Linked DNA regions of Homo sapiens: region 1 is linked to region 2. The links come from fine-mapping of genetic effects on gene expression. A gene starts in region 2. The other region holds a variant in brackets. All regions are shown on one strand. Distances are between the middles of the regions.

Region 1 (5,384 bases), 140 kb before region 2:
GGGTTGGAGAAACAATGCAGAGCAAAGAAAGTCCCATTCCCACTTTTGTGTTATGAAACCTTAGGTGGCAAGTAGATTTTTGCAGAATGGTATGGGAACCCTCCTTAGGTAGGCATCTCAGGGATAATATATAAAATAGGAAGGCTATAAATCCTGTAAAGGAGGTAGTAGTGGACTAAAATGGACAGAATTTATACTTATAACTAATGTTTCATCACTACCAAATCCACCCTGCTCCCAACTCCATTGGCGTGACTAGATGATGCTGACTTTAATGAGTAATCTGAAACACTGGCAATATTTGGCTTTGGTGATGGCTAACTTCAGACCTCATAAATATTATGTAACCCTAGTCTTTTTGCCTCTGGCCAACCAGACTGACTGCATAAATGGCAAACTGACATTGAGAATTTATGAGCTCTGCTGCATTAGTAATGCACATTTCCTTTTGAATTATTCTAGCCTGTAGCCTGAAGCAGATTATAATTATCATTCCTTTTGCCGCACAAGTCTGAAGATCTACAAGTGGTTCAGGTAGCTACATGAATATATTTCAATGTTTTAGGAGGGTGGGTAAATAAAAACCCATATGTAACAAATGAAAAACAGATGCATTTATATAATGCTACAATTTAAAAAATATCCTAGCTAATTAAAATTTGGTCTCGGTCACAGTAAATCCATAGAAAATGTTTCTCTATCTTACTGAGATGTTTTTCTCTTTACCGTCAAAAAATTGGTGATGGTATTGTTCAGTTTACTTGGAGCAGAGTGTTCAGGTAGTCAATGATCTAAGCTATGGATAGTTAGCTCTACACTAAGATAAATACGTGGTCTTAGCTGTTTGGAATGCATTTTCCGACATAAACAATGTGGCTAAGTTCTCAGCTAGCCCAGTAGCTCATAAGACAAATAAAATGCTACACAATTGCAATGAAAACAAAAAACTAGGAAACAATACAGCTGTAAGCATATATTTTGGCCACATTATAGGTTTTTTGAGCTGGCCTGGGAATGTTGCTGCCATTTACAACATGGTTTCTAAAGGATAACATATTCCACATTTTTGGACAATTAAGGAAATTGAAACGTCCACTTTACTGCTTCCTACCACATATTCTCGGCCATTTCCACTCAAACCCTAAGTGGCAGAAGATGAAGGCTGAGTACCCCCAGGAAAATCTAGAGAGGAGAAGAGAGGGCCAAGTCCTGTCCCTTCCTGTAATAGCTGTACCAGCCCCAGAGCCAGGATTCTCATGCTGCTTCAGCTTCTTTCAACTTCTACAACAAGTGAAAGGAAGTAAGTCTCTGTCTTGAAGTTCAAGCAACCCTGCTTTCCTAACTGTTAGCACCAGAAACAACATGTCAAGCTCAAATACAGCCACCCGGAGACAAAACATGGTGGCTCTGGAGGACTAATGTCACTAACCAGAACTCACCAACGGGGTAGGAGGTCTAGATATTAAGTGTTCAGAACCCAGATGGAACCAGTGAAGCTCAACTGTTGAGCTTCAGCTCTGGCTCTATGATTTACTAGCTTACAATCTTCAGCAAGTTACTTAACCATTTAATGCCTCAGTTTCTTCATCTGTTAAAAAATGGGGAAATAAAAAACTGTTGTAAAGATTAAATGAGTTTACATGTCTTAAGAGTTCATTAGCACAGCGCCTGGCATGTAGCAATTGATAAATTGAGCTATCACTCATAGGTTTAATATCACAAGTGAAAAAGGTACAAAAATGCTCTCTCCTTTTTTAAAGCTTTACTATTTTTTTTTCTGGTCTCTAGCGTAGCAGTTGTTAGGTAGGAAGACGTAATTTAGCAAGTAGATATCGATGACCAGAAAGAGTCTCTGTACCTCTGAAATATTCACACACACACACACACACACACCCCAAGTAAAACCTAGACTTTTTTTTTTTCTTGAGATGGAGTTTCCCTCTTGTTGCCCAGGCTGGAGTGCAACGGCACGATTTTGGCTTACAGCAACCTCCGCCTCCCGGGTTCAAGCGATTCTCCTGTCTCAGCCTCCCAAGCAGCTGGGATTATAGGTATGCACCACCATGCCCAGCTAATGTTTTTGTATTTTTAGTAGAGACAGGGTTTCTCCATGTTGGTCAGGCTGGTCTTGAACTCCCGACCTCAAGTGATCCGCCCACCTTGGCCTACCAAAGTGCTGGAATTACAGGCGTGAGCCACCGCCCGCAGCCATAAAACCTAGACTTTAACATTACAAGTACATGTAAGTAATAGACAACAGTAAACTTATCTATGTTGTTTTACTAATAATATTTTAAAATAAAGCATTTAAAAGTCTGACAATGCCAAGTACAGGTTGAAGATGTGGGAAAACAAGATCTCTCGAATACTGCTGGAGAGTCAACTGGTACAACCACCTTGGAAAACTGCCTGTCAATTATGAAGTCACTAATTCAATCCTAGGTATACACATAAAAGAAATGCATACAGAAGTGCATCCAAAAGACATACTCAGACTGTTTGTAATAGAAAAAGGTGGAAACGGGCCGGGTGCGGTGGCTCACGCCTGTAATCTCGGTACTTTGGGAGGCCGAGACAGGCGGATCACGAGGTCAGGAGATCGAGACCATCCTGGCTAACACTGTGAAACCCCGTCTCTACTAAAAATACAAAAAATTAGCCGGGCGTGGTGGCAGGCGCCTGTAGTCCCTGCTACTTGGGAGGTTGAGGCAGGAGAATGGCGTGAACCCGGAAGGCGGAGCTTGCATTGAGCCAAGATCACGCCACTGCACTTCAGCCTGGGCGACAAAAAAAAAAAGAAAAAGGTGGAAACAACCCAGATGTCCATCAACTACAGAATAAATTACAGTAAATTCTTTTTTTTTTTTTCTTGAGACAGAGTCTCGCTCTGTCGCCCAGGCTGGAGTGCAATGGCGCGATCTCGGCTCTCTGCAAGCTCCGCCTCCCGGGTTCACGCCATTCTCCTGCCTCAGCCTCCCAAGTAGCTGGGACTACAGG[C/T]ACCCGCCACCACGCCCAGCTAACTTTTTGTATTTTTAGTAGAGACGGGGTTTCACCGTGTTAGCCAGGATGGTCTTGATCTCCTGACCTAGTGATCCGCCCACCTTGGCCTCCCAAAGTGCTGGCATTACAGGCATGAACCATCATGCCCAGCCATAAATTCTTAAAACAGAAGACTATACAGCAAAAAAAATGAATTCACTACAGATACAATATAAATGGATCCTTAAAATATAAAAATCAGTCCCAGTGTGGTCTCTCACACCTGTAATCTTAGCACTTTGGGAGACAGAGGTGGGAGGACTGCTTGAGCCCAAGCATTCGAGATCAGCCTGGGCAACATAGGAAGACTCTGTCTCTAAAAAAAATTAAAAATTAGCCAGGCATGATGGCATGCATCTGTGGTCCCAGCTACTTGGGAGGTGGAGGTGGGAGGATCACTTGAGCCTGGTAGGTTGAGGATGCAGTGAGCTGTGATCATGCCACTGCATTCCAGCCTGGGTGACAAAGAAGACCCTGTCTCAAAACAAACAAACAAACAAAATCACACTGTTTAGGAATCTATACACAAGTGGTAAAACTATAAAGGTAAGCAAGAAAGTGAATACTACTAAAGTCAGGATAGTGGCTACCCAGGGGATGAAAGAGATTTGGACTGGGAAGAAGCATGCAGAGGTTTTCTGAGGTGCTGGTGATATTCTGATTTTTCTTAAAACACAGTACAGTAGGCCGGGGGTGGTGGCTCACACCTGTAATCCCAGCACTTTGGGAGGCGGAGGCGGTAGGATCACGAGGTCAGGAGATGGAGACCATCCTGGCTAATACGGTGAAACCCCATCTCTACTAAAAATACAAAAAGTTAGCCGGGCGTGGTGGCCGGCGCCTGCAGTCCCAGCTACTCGGGAGGCTGAGGCAGGAGAATGGCGTGAACCCGGGAGGCGGAGCTTGCAGTGAGCTGAGATCGGGCCACTGCACTCCAGCCTGGGTGACAGGGCGAGACTCCGTCTCAAAACAAACAAACAAACAAACAAACAAAAAAAAAACACAGTACAGTAGTTACATAGGTATTTGCTTCATAATCATTCATTAAATTGTATATTTCTTTTACACGTTTCTCTCTACATATTTCACAATAAAATGCTGGGAGTTAGGAAGGAAGAAATGAGGCCAGAATTAGAAAATAAAACAACAAAAAAAAAAAAAAGAAAAAAATTCTAACAATCAGGGTTTCTCTATATTTTGAAGGAATAAATTTAAAATCTTTATTGATGTGTTAAATTCAAGCAATTTCTTCCAATCAAGAAAAATAAGAAATCAGAAATAATTCACAATTCTTACTATACAGGGAAAACATTAATAGCACAGTTGTCTACACGACATTTAATTTACTAGGCCATGAGAAATTTATATTTGCAAATTTTTTAAAATGAAGTCTTATAATTACTCTATTACTACAAACTAATTGATAAAACCCTTGTTGGATACATAATTATATTCTTATTCCAGAGCTTTTTAGTTGATATAATCTATGTAGACAGCCATACTGCTTGTTGAAGCAGAAAAAGCTACTAAATTTTCTAAGCAGAAAACCTGGATCCTTTCAGGAACTTCATAATAATAAAACAGTTGATATATTTGTGGCAATTTACAAAGTAACATCATACATATTATTAAGTTTGGCACAACAACCCGGACCAGGTGGTAAACTGGGAAAATAACCTTGTACCTATTTTATAGGCAACGCCCTAACCAGAAATAACACACACACACACACACACACACACAAAAACTGAGACTTATGGAGGCTAATGAATTTGTCCACGATCACAAATTTACAAGTGGCAAATCTGGGATTTACCTAAGCCTATTTTAAAAACTTTTTATTATAGAAAATTTCAAAAACACACAAAAGTAGATTAGTGTAACAAATCCCCATGTATCTATCATTCAGCTTCAACAATGGCCAATAGATGGCCAATCTTGTTTCATCCATAACCATCATCCCTTCCCACTGGATAATTTTGAAGCCTATTCAGATATCATATAATTTCAACTGTAAATATTTCCATGTGTACATCCAAAAGATGAGGACTTTTGTTTTTTTTTTTTTTTTTGAGATGAAGTCTTGCTCTGTTGCCCAGACTGGAGTACAATGGCATGATCTCCACTCGCCGCAACCTCCGCCTCCTGGGTTCAAGTGATTTTCCTACCTCAGCCTCCCGAGTAGCCGGGATTACAGGCACGCACCACCACTGCCAGCTAATGTTTTGTATTTTTAGTTGAGACAGGGTTTCACCATGTTGGCCAGGCTGGTCCCAAATCCCTGACCTCGTGATCCCCCCCGCCTCGGCCTCCCAAAGTGCTGGAGGCCGTGAGCCACCATACCC
Region 2 (5,384 bases):
GCATGATCTCGGCTCACCACAACCACCACCTCCCAGGTTCAAGCAATTCTCCTGCCTCAGCCTCCCGAGTAGCTGGGATTACAGGCATGAGCCTGTAATTTTTTTTTTTTTTTTTTTTAGTAGAGATGGAGTCTCTTCCTTGTTAGTCAGGCTGGTCTTGAACTCCCGACCTCAGGTGATCCACCCACCTCTGCCTCCCAAAGTGCTGGAATTACAGGCATAAGCCACTGTGCCCGGGCTTTTTTTTTTTTTTTTTTCCCAGAGACAGAGTCTCGCTCTGTTGCCCAGGCTGGAGTGCAGTGGCACAATCTCAGCTCACTTCAACCTCCACCTCCCGGGTTCTAGCAATTCTCCTGTCTCAGCCTCCCGAGTGGCTGGGACTACAGGTGCACACCACCACACCTGGCTAACTTTTTTGTATTTTAGTAGAGACAGGGTTCACTGTGTTGCCCAGGCTGGTCTTGAACTCCTGAGCTCAGGCAATCCACCCGCCTTGGCCTCCCAAAGCACTAGGATTACACGTGTGAGCCACCGTGCCTGGCCTCAAGAGATTCTTCTGTCTCAGCCTCCTGAGTAGCTGGGACTACAGGTGCACGCCACCACACCCAGCTAATTTTTGTATTTTTGTAGAGAGGGGGTTTCACCATATTGGACAGGCTGGTCTTGAACTCCTGACCTTGTGATCCACCCGCCTTGGCCTCCCAAAGTGCTGGGATTACAGGTGTGAGCCACTGCACCCGGCTGCAACACATGTTTTACACAAACGCAAGGCACTCAATAAATGTTTATTAACTAAAATTTGGCTCCTTTTAAATCATGAAATTAGAGTGTTTGAAGAAGCATTAAAGCTCATCTAGTTCAATCCTCCATCTGATTATATAGTGTCCTACTAAATACCAGGTTATACATAATTAGTATAGTGATAGAGTACTCACAGCCATATATGTCTAGAGCAGCTCATTCCATGAATTCCTTCCAAAATTCACTGAAAAGAAAACTGTTTGTTATTGCTTCACCAAGGGAATAAAGAAGGCTGTGGTCCAAAAATAAGATCACCATCATCTCCACTGCATAATTTATAGGATTTAGAGTCAGGCTGTGAGGAAGACAGTTCAGGAAAAGACATAACTGCAGGAGTACAACTATTTCTTCTGATTTTTGATACCCCTCTCTTCCATTTCCACCAAAACGAGAATTTATTTCAATGACAGCAAATGTTCATATAGGGAGAATAGTTGTACAGTATAGAGAAGCCCTAAAGTGTGTCATTTATCTAGTGTCTAATTATAAGTGGCTTGGGCGAAACCCCATAGCTACTAAAAATACAAAATTAGCCAGGCATGGTGGCGTGCACCTGTAATCCCAGCTACTTGGGAGGCTGAGGCAGGAGAATTGCTTGAACCCAGGAGGCAGAGGTTGCAGTGAGCCAAGATGGCGCCACTGCACTCCAGCCTGGGCGATAGAGCGAGACTCCGTCTCAAAAAATTAAAAATGAAAACATACACAGGGTCGGGCGCGGTGGCTCACGCCTGTAATCCCAGCACTTTGGGAAGCCGAGGTGGGCGGATCACCAGAGGTCAGAAGTTTGAGACAAACCTGGCCAACATAGTGAAACCCTGTCTCTACTAAAAATACAAAAAATTAACTGGGCATTGCGGCGGGTGCCTGTAATCCCAGCTACTCGGGAGGCCAAGGCAAGAGAATCTCTTGAACCTGGGAGGTGGACGTTGCAGTGAGTCAAGATGGTGCCACTGCACTCCAGCCTGGGCGACAGAGCGAGACTCAGTCTCAACACACACACACACAGACACACATACACACAATACACATGTGATTGGGGTTGTGGAGAAGCATTGACCATCTGTAAGCCCCTAGAGGGTGGGGGCTATAGGTTATTTGCGTTTTTTACAAGCAGGACCATGTCAGGCATATAATGGATGCCCATACATGTTTGAATCAATATGTAGCCTAATACAGTGATATTGGCAAGACGGGTTTAGAAACATTGTTTTGGTTCAAGATAGAGTTACTGCTTCTTCTACTTCTTAGGTAGGGCTAGAAATCGAATGGAGAATTACTTTCTGTTCATGTATGGGCAAGCGATTCATTGCCAGCCCTGTCAAAGACACATAGAGTTTTTTTTCTCATTGCACACAGGATTTGGGTGATTAGGAAAGTGGAGCGAGTCTACTAATAAACCGTTGTAATAGCACGCAAAGCAAAAATAAATTCAGCGTATTCGTCCCATGCCAATTTAGGAGCATATTTCTCAAATTATGTTTACGTAGGTTTTCCCTAGAGTGAGTGGTTCCCAATCTTGTTTTGTCGGTATTTGCCATCAGTTGTCATTAATTCATTGTTATTAATGGGAAGTGCTCTTTGATCCGTCGGAACCTTGCTCAGTATAGGCCCCAAATGTTCCTTTAAGCCTCGGGGAAAACGACTTTGGCTGGTCGGTGCCCAAAGCCACACCCACTAAGAGGCCTTAGGAAACCTGGGGCTTTCCTGGCGGCGACCTAGCTGTGGCAACCACGCGGCGCGTCGGGATCCCATGGGTCGCGCTTGTTTTCCCCGTGGGAGGCGCGTCCCCCTCCTCCGCCCGGCCGGCCGGCCCTGGACCAGCTGCCTTTCTGGCCGGGACGCCGGGCCCCTTTCCGCACGCGGCGCGCCCCGAGTTCATTTGCATAGGGACGCGCGCGGCGCCGGCGAGAGGGAGGGCGGGCGCGGCCGGGAAGACGGCGCGCGCGCGCCCTGACAGCTCGGCCCTGCTCGCTCACTCGCTCGTCCCCGGCTTCCGAGCACAGCATGGCGGTCAAGGTGACTCCAACTCTCTGCTGCTGCTTTTATTGCATAAGAGACATTCCGAGCGCCCTGCCTGCAGCCCCCCACTGCTTCCCATTTTATTCATTGTCTAGGTCTTAGATAGCTTGTCCTGGGGCTCCGGCTTGCTGCGGGGAGAGCTGTGCGGGGCTTGGACCGGAGGAGGGGATGCCCGGCTGGGGGAGGGGAAGGAGGAGGGATTGTGAGTTGAAGGGGCTTGTACGGTAACACGGGTCAGTGAAGGAAGAGTAATGTCCTGTCCTAGGTGCATGGGATTGTGAGTCCGGAGTTGGAGGGCATCAGAAAGGGTGTGGGAGGAAGTGGCAAGTAAAGCTGGGGATACCTAGGGTATCAGTGAATTGCGGTGGGGGAGGGAGTAAGTATTGAGTAATTTGGGGCCTCAATAAGGCCGAGGGCAGTGGTTGGCTTTTGCGTTGCAGATTGCAGGGTATGGAAAGTATTTGTATTTGTGGCAGCTCTCATATTTTAGGTTGGATGGGGAGAGGGACGCGGAGATAATTACATGTTGGGTTTGCTTTTTATGGAGAAAGGCTGCTAGGCCAAGTGATTAATTTGGGTGATTTAACTTTCCTGTTGATCTACTCTTGTTAGCTTCTTGATTTGAAGGTGGGTGGTTACTACTGTGTTGCTAGTAGATGTGGAATAAAGTAAAAGATCCTCATTGCCTTCCCTTTCCAGTCCAGAGGAAGCACTGTCCGATAGCTTTGCTGTATCTTAGGCTATTCGCACCTGTTTTTCTGCCCTCTAGTCACAGTTATCCAGTTTGACAGTTCTTATCAGCAATTAGGGCTTTTAGTTTGTTTTAAACTAAATGATAAAAGATAGGAGCATTGATTGTTAGCCATGTGACCTCTAATCTGAAGAGATTGTGTGGTCTCTAGTGAAGCATTAACTGGCTTTTTTTTCTTTTTTGCTTACAGGTGCAGACAACTAAGCGAGGGGATCCTCATGAGTTAAGAAACATATTTCTACAGGTAAATTGGCTTGCATAGTGTGCCTTTCATTGCAAAAACAAAAAACGTACATGTCCTTAGTCCTATTCATGCCTTAACTTTGAGGAATGTTCAGTTTTCATGTATTCTTTCAAACATGACCGGACAATATAGCTTATACTTCTCTTAATAAGGTTTGATTTAAGGCCTTCTTTTAATTAAGGGTCGATAAAAGGTTTTCCTCAAGTTACTGCTTTTTTTTTTACATGACTTAAGATATATATTTTGAAAAAAAATTTCCAGCTTAAGCACAGAGACCAAGATAAAATTTCAAAATGTATTGGCATTCTTGTATAGTTAATAGGTATGATGACTAAAATTCTCTTCCTTGAAAGTTGCATGTTTACAAAGTTTTCCTACTTATGAGCTATCCTCCATGTAATTTGTTACAGAGATAAGAATATTATAGCTATTCTTAATTTGTGTGTCTTACTTACATTGTATCCTTAAGCCTTGGGGATTTTACCCCAAAATGTTACCTCTTAAGATTCTTGCAATGGTCTACCTTAACTTCTAAGCTTTTAGAATCAGTGACTTGGCTGTAGACTTAAAAAGAAAAGAAAAAAGAAAAAAAAAAGGTTGGCTTAGTTTTTTGTTTTGCTTTCTTTTCTTAAATTTCAAAAGTTTCCTATGCAGGAAATTGTACTTAAGAAGTAGATGTAGGCCGGGCGCGGTGGCTCACGCCTGTAATTCCAGTATTTTGGGAGGCCGAGGCGGGTGGACCATGAGGTCAGGAGATCGAGACCATCCTGGCTAACACGGTGAAACCCCGTCTCTACTAAAAATACAAAAAATTAGCCGGGCGTGGTGGTGGGCGCCTGTAGTCCCAGCTACTCGGGAGGCTGAGGCAGGAGAATGGCGTTAACCCGGGAAGCGGAGCTTGCAGTGAGTCGAGATCGTGCCACTGCACTCCAGCCTGGGGACAGAGAGACACTGTCTCAAAAAAAAAAAAAAGTAGATGTAAAGGGAGGCAAGCTAAGGTGTTTCACCAAATATTGCATTTCTCTCTGAAATCTTTTGAGAACTTTCTATTCTGGACCTGGGTTCTTATGAAGACACTTTGACCTTGGGCAGGTCCCTGCTGTGTATTATTTTCCTCTGTGAAATGAGAGGTGATCTCCAAGGTTCCTTCCCATTCCAAAAGTCTATGAGTCTATTTTAGGAACAGATTCTAACATATGCTGATGAGCCTGGAATAGATGACATTTTTATTTGAGATATGTGGTTTGCTTAAGCTATTGTTGGGTAAGACGCTGCGTAGTTGAGCATACATATGTGTAGTTTATGAAAAATAATTTGTGAAAATGGGAATCTTAAAGGTCATAATATCTGATAAGGGAAGTATTTTTTTCCAGAACAGAAGTAATTATAATAACAGAAATGGTCCATTTATGACTTGAAACCTTTATTCCTTGCAGGCATTCTTGAAAATAGCCAAAAATATATCGGTATTCACCATACCATGTGATTATAGTCAATTGTTTTGTGAAGAGTTCATGTGATATAGTTAATTTTATGTTCTAGACTAAGTAGATGCGGAAGAAATGAGTT

Alleles and levels. Alleles are on the strand shown, and positions count from the first base shown. SD is a standard deviation of normalised expression in the study named.
As copies of T replace C in region 1, the expression in amygdala of the gene that starts at base 2,776 in region 2 goes down (small effect, 0.33 SD a copy in GTEx).

What was found.
Region 1: its variant is fine-mapped to the expression of SLC25A12 in amygdala (GTEx, PIP 0.99).

The regions. Positions count from the first base shown.
Region 1 is chr2:172,033,804-172,039,187 of GRCh38, reverse strand. The region is part of intron 1 of METAP1D (methionyl aminopeptidase type 1D, mitochondrial); the gene reads right to left. Among named protein-coding and RNA genes, the nearest start is that of METAP1D, 37 kb to the right of the region's middle. The variant C/T (reference allele first, on the strand shown) is at 2,998.
Region 2 is chr2:171,891,636-171,897,019 of GRCh38, reverse strand. It overlaps SLC25A12 (solute carrier family 25 member 12), which reads left to right and starts at 2,776. Exons shown (of 18, transcript NM_003705.5): 1 at 2,776-2,817; 2 at 3,762-3,815. The coding sequence starts at 2,806. RefSeq lists enhancers at 1,997-2,563, 2,564-3,130 and a silencer at 2,534-2,853.